Linked DNA regions of Homo sapiens: region 2 is linked to region 1. The links come from fine-mapping of genetic effects on gene expression. Tissue or cell type: whole blood. Region 1 holds a variant in brackets; the other region holds the start of a gene. All regions are shown on one strand. Distances are from middle to middle.

The links. PIP is the estimated chance that this variant, and not a neighbour inherited with it, causes the effect.
Region 2: it holds the start of PADI4, and the variant in region 1 is fine-mapped to the expression of PADI4 in whole blood (INTERVAL, PIP 0.96).

The regions. Positions count from the first base shown.
Region 1 is chr1:17,350,127-17,358,301 of GRCh38, reverse strand. It overlaps PADI4 (peptidyl arginine deiminase 4), which reads right to left. Exons shown (of 16, transcript NM_012387.3): 11 at 3,615-3,769; 12 at 2,175-2,319; 13 at 1,843-1,945. Among named protein-coding and RNA genes, the nearest start is that of PADI6, 18 kb to the left of the region's middle. The variant CATAAAACAAATCTG/G (reference allele first, on the strand shown) is at 4,021.
Region 2 is chr1:17,304,577-17,312,751 of GRCh38, reverse strand. PADI4 (peptidyl arginine deiminase 4) reads right to left here and starts at 4,555. Exons shown (of 16, transcript NM_012387.3): 1 at 4,438-4,555. The coding sequence starts at 4,529. RefSeq lists an enhancer at 7,373-8,175.

The sequences.
Region 1 (8,175 bases):
GCCACCGCGCCCGGCCTAAAATATATTTTTATAGTGTAATTTTTTTTTTGTTTTGAGACAGAGCCTTGCTCTGTCGCCCAGGCTGGAGTGCAGTAGTGCGATCTTGACTCACTGCAACCTCCACCTCCCGAGTTCAAGCGATTCTCCTGCCTCAGCCTCCCCAGTAGCTGGGATTACAGGTGCGCACCACTGCGCCCAGCTAATTTTTGTACTTTTAGTAAAGTCGGGGTTTCATCACGTTGGCCAGGCTGGTCTCAAACTCTTGACCTCAGGTGATCCACCCGCCTCAGCCTCCCAAAGTGCTAGGATTACAGGTGTGAGCCACCACACTTGGCCTAGTTTAATATTTTCTTGTTTTTTTTTTTTTTTTTGAGACTGAGTCTTGCTCTGTCACCCAGGCTAGAGTGCAGTGGCACATTCTTGGCTCACTGCAACCTCCACCTCCCGGGTTCGAGTGATTCTCCTGCCTCAGCCTCCCAAGTAGCTGGGATTACAGGCACCCGCCACCACGCCCGGCTAATTTTTGTATTTTTAGTAGAGACGGGGTTTCACCATCTTGGCCTAGCTGGCCTTGAACTCCTGAACTCGTGATCCACCCGCCTCGTCCTCCCAAAGTGCTAGGATTACAGGCATGAACCATCGCGCCCAGCCTAGTTTAGTGTATTTTAATAGCACACTTACAGGAACAGCACAGAAAACAGACAACATTAAAAATATCTACTTGCATGCAGGACAGACAGCTCAGAAAAGTATAGTGAATGGATGGAATCTACTGTGTGATAAAAATGCTACAAGTACCATTTAGTTGCTGTCAATAAGAAATGTCCTTGTTTTAAGCCAGGCGTGGTGGCTCATGCCTGTAACCCCAGCACTTTGGGAGGCCGAGGTGGGTGGATCACCAGGTCAGGAGTTCGAGACCAGCCTGGCCAGCATGGCAAAACCCCATCTCTACTAAAAATACAAAACATTAGCCAGGTGTGGTGGTGCACACCTGTAATCCCAGCTACTCGGAAGGCTGGGGCAGGAGAATCACTTGAACCCGGGATGCAGAGGCTGCAGAGAGTCGAGATCGCGCCATTGCACTCCAGCCTGGGCAATAGAGGAAAACTTCGTTTCAAAAGAAAAGAATGTCCAGAAAAATTTAACAGGTTTACTTATAATTATTATAAAGTTGAACCATGAAACTTGTTCACTGGAACATTTTGCCTTGCATTAACGCTAAATTATCTTATCTCCAAAGAGATCCCATCGAGAGAGGAAGAAACAGGTCAGCCCTCTCCTGATGCCACACAACATACTCAGATCTGAGGTGGAGCTCTCAGCCACAGAGGCATCTCAGCCCGGGGCCTGGCCCATGTCTGTGAGCTCTGCTGAGAGAGTAATATTTCATCTGTGCTCCAGCTATACCGAACCTCCCCGAGGTCCTCACACACATCGTGCTTTCTCCTGCCTCTGAGCCGCCCCACCCCCGTCCCTCTGCCTGTGGTATCTCTCTTCCTCTCATTTCCCTGCCCCGTTTGCCCAGCCAACCCCTACTTGCATGCTACTGCTTGGCCTCTGCCTCCTCCAAGAAGCCTTCCCTGAGCTCCATCCACTCAGACACCCCTCAAAGCCCCTGTGTTGGAGCTGTTCTTTTGACTCACTTCCCCCTGGCCTGTGAGCCCACAGGGCAGCAAGCTGTTCTGCCCTGTTCATGCAGTCTCCCTAGCACTTGGCACAGTGCCTGGCGCACAGTAGGTGCTCAGATGCTACCCTATTGCCTGGATGATTCCCTCCAGGCAACAGCGGACTATGGGAAGCAGGAAGGTGCACAGACAGGAGAACAAGGCAGGGCCGACTTACTCTTGATCCCTTCGAACAGCAGGGCCTCCCCGTGGCCCTCATTCTGCTGCTCCTGGAACAGTTTGTAGCAGGACCTGGGGCTGGCCAGGAGCAGCCGGAAGCCCTGGAGGCAGAAACACTGGGGTTAGAAGTCAGCTTTGCCCCTGGAGCTCCCAACGAGGGTGGATCTGCTGAGGGTGGGAGTAGTGTGGACTTGGACCCAAGCTGGCCACCTCCTCTACTGCCATCCTAAGGGTGAAGGAGAAATAGACAAGTAAAGTTGCTCCCACCCCAGGCAGAGGGTCTACCCAGGAAGGAGGCATGGCTTCCTGAGGCAGCCCCCAAGACTGTACCTTCCTGTCGGGTGCTGGCACAAAGCTCAGGAACTCGTCCACGTGGCCCACGGACAGCCAGTCAGAATAGAGCTTCACAGGGGCCTGCACCTGCTGGGCACTGAGGAAGTCCTGCAGGGCCTGGTGCATCTGCCGGCTGTCATTGCTGTCATGGCAGGGTTAAAGGGGTGTTATCGGCAGCAAGGGCTACAGGGAAGTCCCTGAAGGACAAGGGGCTTGGCAAAAAGGTCAGGGTTCTCCTTCAGCTGAGAAAGGGATGCAGGAGTCTAGAATGCCTTTATTTTATCCCCTAACATTTGAGAAATCAAGGAATTGTCATTCTAGTTTTATTGGGGGAAACTGAGGCACAGAGTCACTAAGGTAAGTAGAACAGAGCTTAGCCTCAGAAAGCACTGCCTCTTGAGTTAGATGAGATGCTGGTATTCTGGGTACACATGGGGCTTAGAGCCAGTCTGACCTAAGTCGGTGATCTCTTGTTAGCCATGTGGCCTTGGGGACATTCCTTCACCTGTTTGAGCCTCAGTTTTCTCCTAAAAAAAAAAATTAGTGTTGCAGTGCCTTGTTCTTCCTCACTTTTTTTTTTTTTTTTGAGACAGAGTCTTGCTCTGTTGCCCAGGCTGGCACAATCTCGGCTCACTACAACCTCCGCCTCCCGGGATCAAGCGATTCTCTTGCCTCGGCCTCCCGAGTAGCTGGGATTACAGGCATGCATCACCAGGCCCAGCTAATTTTTGCATTAGTAGAGACGGGGTTTCGCCATGTTAGTCAGGCTGGTCTCGAACTCCTGACCTCAGGTAATCCACCTGCCTTGGCCTCCCAAAGTGCTGGGATTACAGGTGTGAGCCACTGTGCCCAGCCTCTTCTTGTTCAATAGGTTCTAGCCATCCTGGCCTTGCACGCAGGAGCTCATTCCTGCCTCAGGGCCTTTGCACATGCACTTTCATTTGCCAGGAACTCTCTGTCCCAGATCTCCAGGTGGCCCTGTCCCTTCTGTCATTAGGCCTCAGTTCAAAAGCCCCTTCCCCAGAGAGGACCTCCCTGGTCACCCTAACAGTTCCTATTCCTCCCGTGCCCCTCTCTTTTGTTTTTGTCATTTGAAGTTATCTTGTCTACTTTTCTATCATCTGTTTCCCTACTAGAGTAGTGGTAAGGACTTGTCTTTCTTGTCCACGGCTGCATTCCCAGCTCCCAGAACATTTTGGATGCTCAGTAAATATTCACTGACTGAAAGAGGGTAAGTGGCAGGGCTGGAATTGAACTTGGGTCTATGGGCTCCAAAGCCCGCATTCCTCACCCTGCGCTTGGATTCCTCTCACACTCCCTCAAGTCTGTTGGGCTGTCTAGAATCGGAAGCAGGAAGGCAAGGCTTCCACTCTGGCCTCTGCTTTTCTACGGCATACCTGGGTCCTGGCCACCCCTTCCTGTTACTCCCCTCCTTACCTGGGATAACAGCTGTCCCCGAAGAGAATCCTGCCCAGCGGGTATTCCTTGCCCCTGACTGTGACTGGGGGGCTCACTTCCAGGTTCCCAAAGGAGTCCAGTCCACTGATACCCCCTGTTTGGGGCCCTCGAGTTACATAGCCAAAATCTGGACCCTGAGATAGGAGAAGGGAGTGCCAAGAGTTAGAGGAATGAGGTCCCTGGTGAAGGGTCGGGGGGTCCAAGTTTAGAGATGAACTTGGGCACAGGAAGTAACTCAGTACCGTCTACAGCTGGCACATAGCAGGTGCTGTTATCACATGTGGAAGGTTAAAGGAATGTTGAGTTCATTCAATGGACAAGAAAAGGGACTAGCATTTGTTGGGTCCCTAAAGCGTGCCAGCTGCTTGGTAAACCTTAACTTGGG[CATAAAACAAATCTG/G]TAAAACATCATTTTTTTTCCCCTTAAGACAGAGTCCCACTCTGTTGCCCAGGTTGGAGGGCCGTGGCATGATCTCAGCCACTGCAACCTCCGCCCCTGGTTCAAGGAATACTCCTCAGCCTCCTGAGTAGCTGGGACTACAGGCACGCCCCACCACGCCCAGCTAATTTTTGTATTTTTTTTTTTTTTTAGTAGAGATGGGGTTTCACCATGTTGGCCAGTCTAGTCTCGGATTCCTGACCTCAAGTGATCCATCTGCCTCGACCTCCCAAAGTGCTGGGATTACAGGCATGAGCCCCCACGCCCAGCCACATTTATTCTCTTAAAATTCTGGAGGCCAGAAGTGTGAAATCAGTTCCACTGGGCTTAAGTCCAGGGATGGCAGAGCTGGTTCCTCCTGGAGGCCCTGAGGAAAGAATCTATTATATTTCCGTGTCTTTTTCAGCTTCTAATAGCCGCCTTGGCTGGCAGCCCCTTCTTCCACCTTCAAAGATCTCCAGTCTCTGCTTCCATCATCACAGGCCCTCCCGCATTCCAGGATAAACCAGGATAATCACCCCATCACAAGATCCCTAATATAATTACATTCAGCAAAGTCCCTTTTACCATATAAGGAAACATCAGGTTCGGGGGGACTAGGATGTAGAGGGGCCATTATTCAGTCCACCGCCCATCTCCCCTGCCTCCCAGGAGAGGGTACATCTAGCCTTCTACACATAGATGGTCCATTCCCTGAGGCTTCATGGGGGCCATGAACTCCCTGAGAGTAGACGCCAAATTATGTGCCCAGGTGTGAGTTTCTGGGAAGATGAGTGGGTCTTAAGGAGGTCTGTGATCTTCAAATTTACTTCTTCACTGCAGTTTTGACCTCCTGGGCTCAAAGGATCACGGTCCCGTCTCAGCCGCCCGAGTAGCTGGGACCACAGGTGCATGCTATCACAACCTGGCTAATTTTTAAAGTTGTTCTTTCCTGTAGAGATGGGGTCTCACTATGTTGCCCAGGCTGGTCTCAAACTCCTGGGCTCAATCTTCCTGCCTCGGCTCCTAGAGTGTTGGGATTATAGGTGTGAGCTACTGCGCCTGGCCTGATTCCACAGATTTAACAATCACACTTCCAGTTCCTCTCTCCACTTCTCTCTAAAACCCAGACCAACCCGCTTCTCCCGCCCATCAAAGCTTTCCTTGTCCAGGTCTCCATGAACACATGGCCATATCCCAAGTGCAATGCGCGGGCCTCGCCTTCCCCTCAGAAGCCCCTGAATCAGGCGGTCACACCTGTGTTCTCCGCACACTTTCTGCACTTGGCTTTCAGGACACCGGGGGATCCTGGTTCACCTCCAACCTCACTTGCCCCTTCAGTCGTCCTGCCAAGTCTCATGGAATTCCGTTCCCGAGCCGACAACCCTCATGTTCGCATCTCTGGGCATCCCTTCCCTCCCAAACATCACATGTGTATCCACGCTCACTTGACTTCCCATTTGGATGTTGACCAATTGTCTCCCACTTGCCCTAAACAGAACTTTGGGTCCCCTCTTCCCACCCCCTCATTCTCCATCAATCTGTTCCTCCTCCCACAGTCCTCCCCTCCCAGGGGATGGTGCCTGCCACCCACAGAGGTCACAGCCTTGCTGTCAGCTTTGGCTTGCCTCTCTCATAGCGGGGGTCAGAATGCCCTGCTGGCTCTGCCTTCCAGACATAGCCGGAATCTCATGGCTTCTCACCTCCTCTGGCCACACCCTGCCTGCACTCCCAGCATCCCTCACCTGCCCACTCCCTTGCCCCTTGCCTCTGTTCTCTTTACTCAACAACACATAGCAGGGCTTGTTCCCTTTTCTAACAAACCAGATCATAATCCTCCTCTGTTTAAGACCCTGTGATGATTCTCAGTTTCTAAACAAGCAGCCTTAACAGTAGCCAACAAGCCCAACCCCATCCGGTCATCCCGTCCCTTCCCCATCACCTCTGACCACAGCCTCTTCTACTGCCCCCCATCTCCTCCCATCACCTCCTTGACCACCTCTGCTACCACCTCCCATCTCTTCCCTGACCACCCCTCTTACCACCTCCCATCTCCTCCCTGACCGCCTCTCCTACCACCTCTCATCACCTCCCTGATTGCCTCTCCTACTGCCTCCCATCACCTCTCTGACCACAGTCTCTCCTACCACCTCCCATCACCTCCCTGACTGCCTCTCTTCCCACCTCCCATCACCTCCCTGACTGCCTCTCCTCCCATCACCTCCCTGGCCGCCTCTCCTCCCATCACCTCCCTGACTGCCTCTCCTCCCATCACCTCCCTGGCCGCCTCTCCTCCCACCTCCCATCACCTCCCTGACCGCCTCTCCTACTGCCTCCCATCAGCTCCCTGACTGCCTTTTCTACCACCTCCTATCTCCTCTCTGACTGCCTCTCCTCCTGGTTGCTCTGCTCTACCCCTCCAGGCCCTCTTGCTGTTCTGGAACACTCAAGGCATGCTCCTGCCCCAGGGCCTTTGCACTGGCTGTTTCACTGCCTACAACACTCTTCACCCAGACACCCACTCACATGGCCAACTCGCTCACCTCCCTCAAGCATCTGCTGCAAGGTCAGCTTCTCCGTGAAGCCCACCCTGACCATCCTATTTAAGAACGCAATCTTTTTTTTTTTTTTTTTTTTTTTGAGACCAGGTCTTACTCCTATTGCCCATGCCAGAATGCAGTGGTGTGATCATGGCTCACTGCAGCCTCACCCTTCAGGGTTCAAGGGTCCTGCCACCTCAGCCTCCTAAGTAGCTGGAACTATAGGCATGCACCACCATGCCTGGCTTATTTTTATTTTTATTTTTAATTTTTTTTTTTTTTGTAGAGACAGGGTTTGACTATGGTGCCTAGGCTGGTCTCGAACTCCTGGGCTCAAGTAATCCACCAGCCTTGGCCTCCCGAAGTGCTGGGATTACTGGAATGAGCCACCAGACTCGGCTTTAAGAATGTAACCTAATCCACCTTCCCTACCACGCTGGCACCTATGAGCCCCTCCATTCCGCTCTACTCTGTCTTTCCCTGTAGCTCTTTTTTTTTTTTTTTTTTTCCTCTGGGACAAGGTCTCATCTGTCACCCAGACTGGAGTGCAGAAGTGCAATCATGACTCGCTGCAGCCTTGACCTCCTGGGCTCAAGCGATCCTCCCACCTCAGCCTCTCTAGTAGTTGGGACTACAGGCATGTGTTACCATGCCTAGTTAATTGAAACAATTTTTTTTTTTTTTTTGTAGGGACAAGGTCTCATTATGTTGCCCAGTCTGGTCTCAAACTCCTGGGTTCAAACAATTCTCCCACCTTGGCCTTCCAAAGTGCTAGGATTACAGGTATGAGCCACCACACCTGGCACCTGTAGCTCTTGACATCCCCTTCTAAGGAACCATATAACTGCTTTGTTCTATTCATTGTCTGCTGTCTGTCTCTCTGGGCCAGAACGTCCCCTCCGTGAGGTCAGGGACCTTGGCGTTGCTCCCTGTCATATCTCAAGTGCCTAGAACAAGGCCCCGCTGAGTATGTGTTCAAACAGTGTTTGATGAATGAATGTAAATTCAGCCACATCACTGCCCTGGCTGTTGTTGTGAGAGGGGGTCAGTTATACAGCCTTCAGCCTTGGATTTCTGCAGGCAAATGAAGGCATATCCATAGTCTGCAGAAGTGGCCCCCCAAGAGTGGGCTGTGTGGGGGACGCTCATGGATGCCAGGTGATGCGGCCTGAGGCACAACGTTGGAAAGCTGTTGCCCTTCTCATTTTCCTCCAGTCTTTTCTGGTTCCTCAAAAATTCAAGTTTCAGTGATGCAAACACATCCTTGACACCTGCTAATCCCTCATTTTAACCAGCAGAGAGCTGACCTCGAGCTCAGAGATGCTGCAGTCACTTGTAACGAGCTGGCTTTGGTAGCAGGATCTTGTTTCATTCTGTTTAACTTCACAGTTGCCTTCTATCTGCAGGAAGTGCTGCTGGTTTCCCATTGATGGTGGTGATAGAAAATTTACTGACGATGCTTACAGGAAGAACAACCACTGTGTGTGAAGCTTTGTGCCAGCTGCCCGATGGACAGCGTAAGGCATAACAGCCTCAGGCCCAGCAGCGCAGGCAACGAAAAGTAGATGAACGAGTCCATGATT
Region 2 (8,175 bases), 46 kb after region 1:
ATAGCTTATCTTCACAGGCATGGAACAAAGGACAGAAATCAAAGTTATCCCTCTGCTTACCTGCAACAAATGCATATCTGATTTCTTCCCTTGCTCTATGTTTATCATTTGTGACAATATAGATTCCCTGAGCTCAAGGCATAAGTGACTATTCCTCTCCCCACCTCACACGGAAAATGTATTCAGTGAAAGCTGATCAAAGACTCAATGCAACCACTTACCTCTTATCTACCCATCTTTTTTTTCTTTCTTCCTCTTTGCCCCAATACCCACTTTTTTTTTTTTTTTTTTGAGGCGGAGTTTCACTCTTATTGCCCAGGTTGGAGTGCAATGGTGCAATCTCAGCTCACTGCAACCTCCGCCTCCTGGGTTCAAGTGATTCTCTTGCCTCAGCTTCCTGAGTAGCTGGGATTACAAGCGTCTGCCACCACGCCCGGCTAATTTTTGTATTTTTAGTAGAGATGGGGTTTCACCATGTTGTCCAGGCTGGTTTCGAACTCCTGACCTCAGGTGATCCACCCTCCTTGGTCTCCTAAAGTGCTGGGATTACAGGCGTGAGCCACCACATCCGGCCCAATTCCCACTCTTTTCCCTTTAAATATTGAAGTCCCAGACCCATTTAGGAAAAAGCACGGACTACAGATTTTTCCTGTTTCTGTATTCTTTTCCTGGGCACGTCCTTAACCTTGGAAATAAACCTCTGAAAATGATTGACACTCACTTTAGTCATTTTCTTTGATTTGCATTGGAAAGGGGACCCCTCTGCCAGACACTTTGTGTGCATTATATAATTCAATCTTCGCCGTAACCCAGGAAGGGGTGTTAATTTTCCCATTTTACAGATGGGTAAACCGAGGCTCAGAGAGACAAACAGACTTGTCCAGGCTCCCCACTGTCATGCCAACTGGTCTATTCAGAAGGAAACCCGGCTGGGCGCGGTGGCTCAAGCCTGTAATCCCAGCACTTTGGGAGGCCGAGGCGGGTGGATCACGAGGTCAGGAGATCGAGACCATCCTGGCTAACACGGTGAAACACCGTCTCTACTGAAAATACAAAAAAATTAGCCAGGCATGGTGGCAGGCGCCTGTAGTCCCAGCTACTGGGGAGGCTGAGGCAGGAGAATTGCGTGAACCCGGGAGGTGGAGCTTGCGGTGAGCCAAGATCTTGCCACTGCACTCCAGCCTGGGCTGGACAGAGCGAGACTCCGTTTTTAAAAAAAAAAAAAAGAAGAAGGAGACTTTGGGAGGAAGAAGAGAGACCATAGATGGCAGCTTCTGAATGCACACTGCCCTTTGCAGTTGGCACCTCCTGGACCCCCACCCCTTCTAGGCCTTTACCAAATCCTTTGGAAGTTGAATGAGCTCTGCCCACAGGGAGCAGTGCCCAGGGGAGTCCACTCCCCAGCATTTGGAGGCAGGGTGGGCTGCGAAGCAGGGTGGGTTTAGGGTCAGACAGTCCTGGCTTTGCCACCTTTAACTTTTTTTTTTTTGAGACAGAGTCTCACTCTGTTGCCCTTGCTGGAGTGCAGTGGTGCAATCTTGCCTCACTGCAACCTCCACCTCCCAGGTTCAAGCAACTCTTGTGCCTCAGCCTCCTGAGTAGTTGAGATTACAGGCATGTGCCACTACTCCCATCTAATTTTTTTTTTTTTTTTTGAGACGGAGACTCACTGTGTTGCCCAGGCTGGAGTTCAGTGGCACAATCTCGGTTCACTGCAGCGTCCGCCTCCTGGGTTCAAGCGATTCTCCTGCCTCAGCCTCCCAAGTAGCTGGGACTATAGCTGCGTGCTACCACGCCCGGCTAATTTTTGTATTTTTAGTAGAGACGGCGTTTCACCATGTTAGCCAGGATGGTCTCGATCTCCTGACCTTGTGATCCGCCTGCCTCGGCCTCCCAAAGTGCTGGGATTACAGATGTGAGCCATTGCGCCCCGTCTAATTTTTTTGTATTTTTAGTAGAGACGGGGTTTCCCCATGTTGGCCAGGCTGGTCTCGAAATTCTGACCACAAGTGATTTGCCCATCTTGGCCTCTCAAAGTGCTGGGATTACAGGCATAAGCCACCGTGCCCAGCTTGCCACCTTTAATTTATGTGACCCTCGGTTAGGTGTTTTTGCCTCTTTTTTTTTGAGACAGAGTCTTACTCTGTCACCCAGGCTGGAGTGCACTAGCCCAATCTTGGCTCACTGCAACCTCTGCCTCCCGGGTTCCTGACTTTGGGGACAGAGAGAATGGCTTGAGCAAAGTTATGGAGGCATGAATATGAGGGGCGGAGGTGAGGAGGGAGTGGCCCTCCCACCTGTGTGGTTCAGGAAGAGGCCGATGGCTGCTCAGGAGATGGGAGGGAGGCGCTGTCTGGGGCTATGTTAAGAACAGATAAGAAGTGACAGGAAGGTCTGGAACGGAGACCCATGGGGAGAATGGAGGGTCCTAGAGTCAGGCTGCCTGGGTTGAGTCCTGGCTCCCCTACTTATTAGCTGTGTGGCTTGAGGTGGGTTACTTAACTTCTTGGAGCCTCTGTTTCCTCTTTTGTAAAATGGGAATAACAACATTACCTGCCTCCCAAGGCCATTGAATGAGTTGAATGTAGGAAGTGTGATGTAAATATTAGCCATTGTTACGTGAGATGTTCAGGGGATAGAGTGACAGGCTCAACGTGTGGCTGAAGGAGGAGAAAAGAAGGATTTAGAGGCCCCTGTGAACTCCGGAGTCCCCATCCTTTCTGGGAGAAATGGGCAGTGCCTTCCTCTCTGCCCAACACTGACCAGCTGTCCACCCACCTCTCTAGGGCCAGAGGAAGCACTTGTGATCTTGATTACTACTCATGGACGCTGGGTAGAGGGCTAGCCTGGGCATGCTGGGAGAGGCCCTGGGCTAGCTTCAGCTCCTGTCATTTCCTTCACACCCATTCTCAGAGGAGTTGGGGGCGCCTCAGATGATGTCAGGTGATTTTCTTTTTCCTTTTCTCCCCAACTTCTTGGTCTCCTGCCTCCACCATGTGGCCCTGGGAGACCATCCCGACATTTCCTGCTGTTCTCTGGCTGCTGGGGCTCAGGCAGTAGCAAAGAAATGTCCCCGGCACTCCTGTGGGCACCATTCTAGGGCCACCGATGCCCAGACTGGGATGGGGAAGCCAGGGGCAACCACTCCTATTCCTGACAACAGCAATTGTTGCAGGATAATTTAGGAATCAGAGAGACCGAGGGGTTGAGGAGGATTTATTATTTAGATTCACTGGCTCAGTCAGGCTAACATTTCAAAAGACTGAGCCCTGAACAAAGAGTTAAGTTATCTTTTAAGCATTTCATGGGGCGGGGGTAGATCTGTGCAGGGGGAAGCATATTATAGAGGCAAGAAACAAAGACAGTTATTTAATTGAGACATGCATTATATTATTTTTTACTTTTTAAGGAAAAAAATTTTTACAGCTTGAGTTTATCTGTCTAGTGACCTTGCAGCTGCACAGCTGGAGAAACAGGGTCTTTACAATGCCTGGAAAAAGAGGAGCAATAAGGCTCACTAGCCACAAAAAAACAGGCAGTTAATTTTTAAGGGACTCCAGCTCTTTTTTTTTTTTTTTTCCAGGGAAAATTGTTTTTTTTTTTTTTAACATAGAACTGAGTTTTTGCTTACACGTTTTAAAATTTCTTTTAATTCCTGTTCTACAATAACAACAATGACCCTGCACACTCCCCGAGAGCATTCCTCAACTCTCTTGTTTAACCCAGACCCTGCCACAGAGCATGGCACTCAGCATTTGTTAAATGAGTAAATAAAAACTACCAAGGATGGGCCCACCACTGTGCTAAGTACTCAGCCAACATCTGCACATTTTTTCACATTGAATTCCTATAACCAGCCCATGATGTGAGTATTATCCCCATTTCACAGATGAGGCAACTGAGGCTCAGTTGCCCAAGGCCTCCTTGCTAGCCAGCAGCAGGTCCAGGCTTCCTACCTCAGTCTCTGCCGCCACAGAGCCCCGTTTCGCCATCCCCACCCACGCTATTATGCACCCACTGAGGGAGGCTTAGCTAAGAGATGTGGGGTAACAAACTGTGCTGTGAACCAGGAGGCCCAGGGGCTAACCTTACTTCCAGGGCACACGTGCTGTGTGACCTTGAGCAAGTCACAGACTCTCTGTAAGCTTCTGTTGCCTCGATGAAGACAGGGAGATGGATGGCCTGGTTTGCCCCATAATAATTTATCTGTCGTGTGTTCCTGGGGAATTTGCACTTGTACATGGCAAAGAACCCACAGCCATGAGACTGGCACTTCCCAGGGCTGCTGGGGTCTTCTCTCTCCAGCTACTCCCCTGGCAGTGGCTGCAGAGGCTGGAGCCTAGAGCCTGGGCCAAACACATGCTCCTGTGTCAGTAGAACTGGGTCATCCAGCATCTCCTGACCTGCCTCCAAAACCCCAGAAGGCCCCCCTCTTACCTGCAGATGTCAAGCTGAGTCAAGGTGCCCAGCACACACACGGCATGGGTGGGCTGCTCTGGGGTCACACGGATCAATGTCCCCTGGGCCATCGTCGGGCTAGCTCGTCCCTCTGGCTGTAGGAAGCCCCTGGGCTGGTTCCTTTATATCGCCCAGCAGAGGCCATGAGTCAGCACCTGCGGTCTGTGGCCCAGAGGCTCAACCCCTCCCCACTCAGGTCAGGGGTGTGGGCTCTCAAAATCTCCTCTGCCCTGGGGCTGCCCCTCGGACCTCTAGATGGGTGTCAATGCTGGTACCAGTGGCAGGGTGGCTCTGTCAGTTTCTTGGGAAGGATGGATGGCTCAGAAAGCCTGGGGTGGAGAGTGGGGCTGAGGGGTTGGGTCCTGGTCCTCATGCCCACAGTCCCATCCCTGCCTAGAGGCCCTGAACACCTTGATCTATCCAATCTCACCTATGTCAAACAGGCATATCAGAGAGGAGAAGGTGGGAAAAGCGGGGAGATTTTAGGTAAGCAGTCACAGGCCAGGCTACACGTTCAAAGACCAACCAGGCTTGGGACAAGTCTCTCCACCTGGGCCACCCACATGACAGCTCACATTCTCTATGCCAGGCACGTTTTCCTGCACTTCACATAGAATAGCTCATTACGACAAACCCGTGAACTAGATCATACCATTATCCCCTTATTTCACCCTCACAGCAGCCCTCTGAGGTTGGTGCCATTATTATACCCATTTTACAGAGGAGAAAACAGAGGTGCAGTTCTTCCACAGCTCGAGAGTGGTAGGGCCAGAATTGGAACCAAAGGTGTCCAGTTCCAGAGTGTGAGATTCATTAGCTGCCTGTCTATATGACACGTGCTTTCCAGACTGTATCACAGCTACATCTCGCTACAATACAAGGTGTATATGGGCTTATTATTACAACCCATTTTACAGAAGGAAAATTGAGGCTCAGAGAGTAAAAGTGACTAGCTCTTGCCCAAGGTGCCAGAGCTAGAATGCGGCAGAGCTGGGAAGAGAAGATGAGCTTCCTGGCATGGAAGTTGATGTTCTCTGCATGCTCCAGGATACCTGCCTCTTGCCAGGGCCTCTGGGTGTCAGACCAGACAGTGCAGGTGTGGGCCACGCCTGCCAGGGGGATGCCCATGTGGCCTCAGAGCTGTGGTTGCACCTGGGCCATTGGTGCCAGGCTCTGCCTTTAATGAGGCAACTGGGGGGTGGTGGATGGGTCCCAACAAGGAGCACTCAAAGGGTGCATGCATGGGAGTCTGGCGTGAACATAGAGCGTTTCGTGGGTTGGATATCTTGCGTTTGTTTTTTGTTTGCTTGCTTTGGCTTTGAAGCAAAGAATTTGCCTCATTAATTCAGAGTCAGGCTGTGGGATCAAACAGGCTTTAGTTCAAATCCTGCCTCATCTCAACATCCCTATGGAGTGCGTCCTATCAGGATGCCCATGTGTAGATGAGACCACAAAGACTTAGAGAGATTGAGTGAGACCCCCAAGGTCTCATAAGCCCTACAGTGGGGATCTGGATTCAGACCACCTTCTCTGGGCTCAAAATTTATCTTCTGTACCAGCAGATGATGATGTGGCCAGGTCCGACGTTCTGACGCATCTACATGACTGCCTGCACACAGTGTTAATAAACCCAATTTCTCTGGCTGACCGCATGATTAGAACTAGTTTGAGCTTCTACTGGGAAGTGGCAGGAGGGAGCTGTCCATTGTTAGAGTTGGGAGGGCCCTTAGAGAACACCCAATCCAGTCCTCGTTTTGCAGAAGGGGAGACTGAAGCACAGAAAGGGAGTGGGACCTGCCCACGGTCACACAGCAAATCAGAGGGAGGGCTGGCCTCTACCCCAAGTCTTAGGTCTCTTGAGGTTGTTTTCTTCTGTTCCTTCTTTTCTTTCTTATTTTCTTCAGCAGTTTGGGGTTTAAATTTGCTGTGAACGAGCCACAAAGAGGACGAGCCCCAAAGCAGTTTTGTTAATTCAACAAATACTGACTGAGTGCCTATTGATGGCCAGGCACTGTTCCAGGCACCGTGGATACGCTGTGAACAAAGTGGACAAAAATCCTGCCTTCATAGAGCCTTTTTGTTTGTTTGTTTTTGTTGGGAGAGAGACAGCCAGTAAGCAATAAATGCAGTAAGTGGATTCTATCGTATGTTAGTGGGGTAGAAAAAGGAAAAAGGACAGGGTAAAGGCTACCAGGAACACAGGGAGAAGGTTCCAAGTCAAGAGAACAGCCAGTGCAATCGGTACAAAGGCCCTGAGGCAGGGACATGCCTGGCGGGTTCAAGAAAGAGCAAAGAGGCCAGTGTGGCTGAAATGCAGTGAGGGAGGGGGAGAGCAGCCCAGGGCGGGGTGCGATCATATAGGGCCTTTCGGGCATCCTAAGAGCTTTGGCCTCTGCTCCAAGTAACGTGGGGAGCCTGGAGTCATTTTGAGCAGAGAAGGACCGCGAACCAACTTGCTTGAACGTGATCACTCTGGCTGTGATGTGAGAACAGACTGTAGGGGACCCGGGAGGAGGCCAGAAGACCTGTGAGGTGGCCGCTGCACACAGGCTGGTGACAGACGGTGGGGCTCAGGCTAGCGTGGTGGCAGTGGAGGAGGGGAGGATGGGTCAGGTTCTGGACATTTTGTGATGCAATACAGCCAATAGGAGTTGCAGAGGGACTGGATGAGGGGTGTTAAGAAAGACAGAGGGATGGAGGAGGACACCGCAGTTTGGAGCCTGAGGCCCTGGAGGGATGGGGCTGCCCGCAGCTGGGCAGGGAAGGCTGAGGGAAGGGCGGGGGGTGGGCATGGTGGAGATCAGGAGTTTGGTCCTGGCTTTGCCAAGTGTCATTTGGTGTGATGATGCCCTGTAGGACGTTTGAACACATGATTCCGGAGCTTAAGAGACAGGACCAGGCTGAAAAGGATAAAACAGTGAGATGTCAACATCTCCAGCTCCCCTAGGGAATGAGTGAGGATAGGGAAGAGAGAAGGCCGAGGGATGAGCCCTGGGGTCCTCCACCAGAGACCCAGGGGAGTGATGAGGGAGAGGAGATGCAAAAGAGAATGCATGCTATTTGCAATTACACAGGGAGCAATGCAAAACTAGGTTTGTAACACACACACACACACACACACACTCACTCACACTGAGGGAAAACGGCTGCACTTTGGAAGCAAAGCCTCTTTGTAGAAACACACTTGGTCACTCACAGTGGAACAAGGGCCACGGGCTCTGTGATGGGCAGGGCTGAGGGCAGGAGCCAAGGGCAGTGGAATGAGAGGCCAACAGACTTGGGGCTGGCGCGTGCCCCACCTGTGCCTGCAGCTCCAGCTGCATCCTGACATGGCTGCTCCCCTACTGTTGGACATGGGGGCTGTCTGCAAGTTTTCAGTGTCATAAACCATGCAGCGATGCATCACTTGTGCCCGTGTCTGTGGTTATTTGCAGGTATGTTGTAGATTCATCTTTGCCCCTCTTTAGTTTTTTGGCAGAGCGCTTCATTCTTTTCCTGAGATTTGCCACACCTTGTGTTTAAATGCCCATCCCCCAGCTAGCCTGAGAGCAAGGCCAGTGCCTAGACTTGTCACTCAACACTGGTGGCTTAACGCCGTGGCTGTTTGTGTTCCCAGCACCCAGCCCAGTACTTGACCCAGACAGGATCCTGTGAAGATCCCTGAGAACCCGGCCTGGCTGTTTCTTTTGCTGATGGCATTAACCCTTTCAGAGCCCA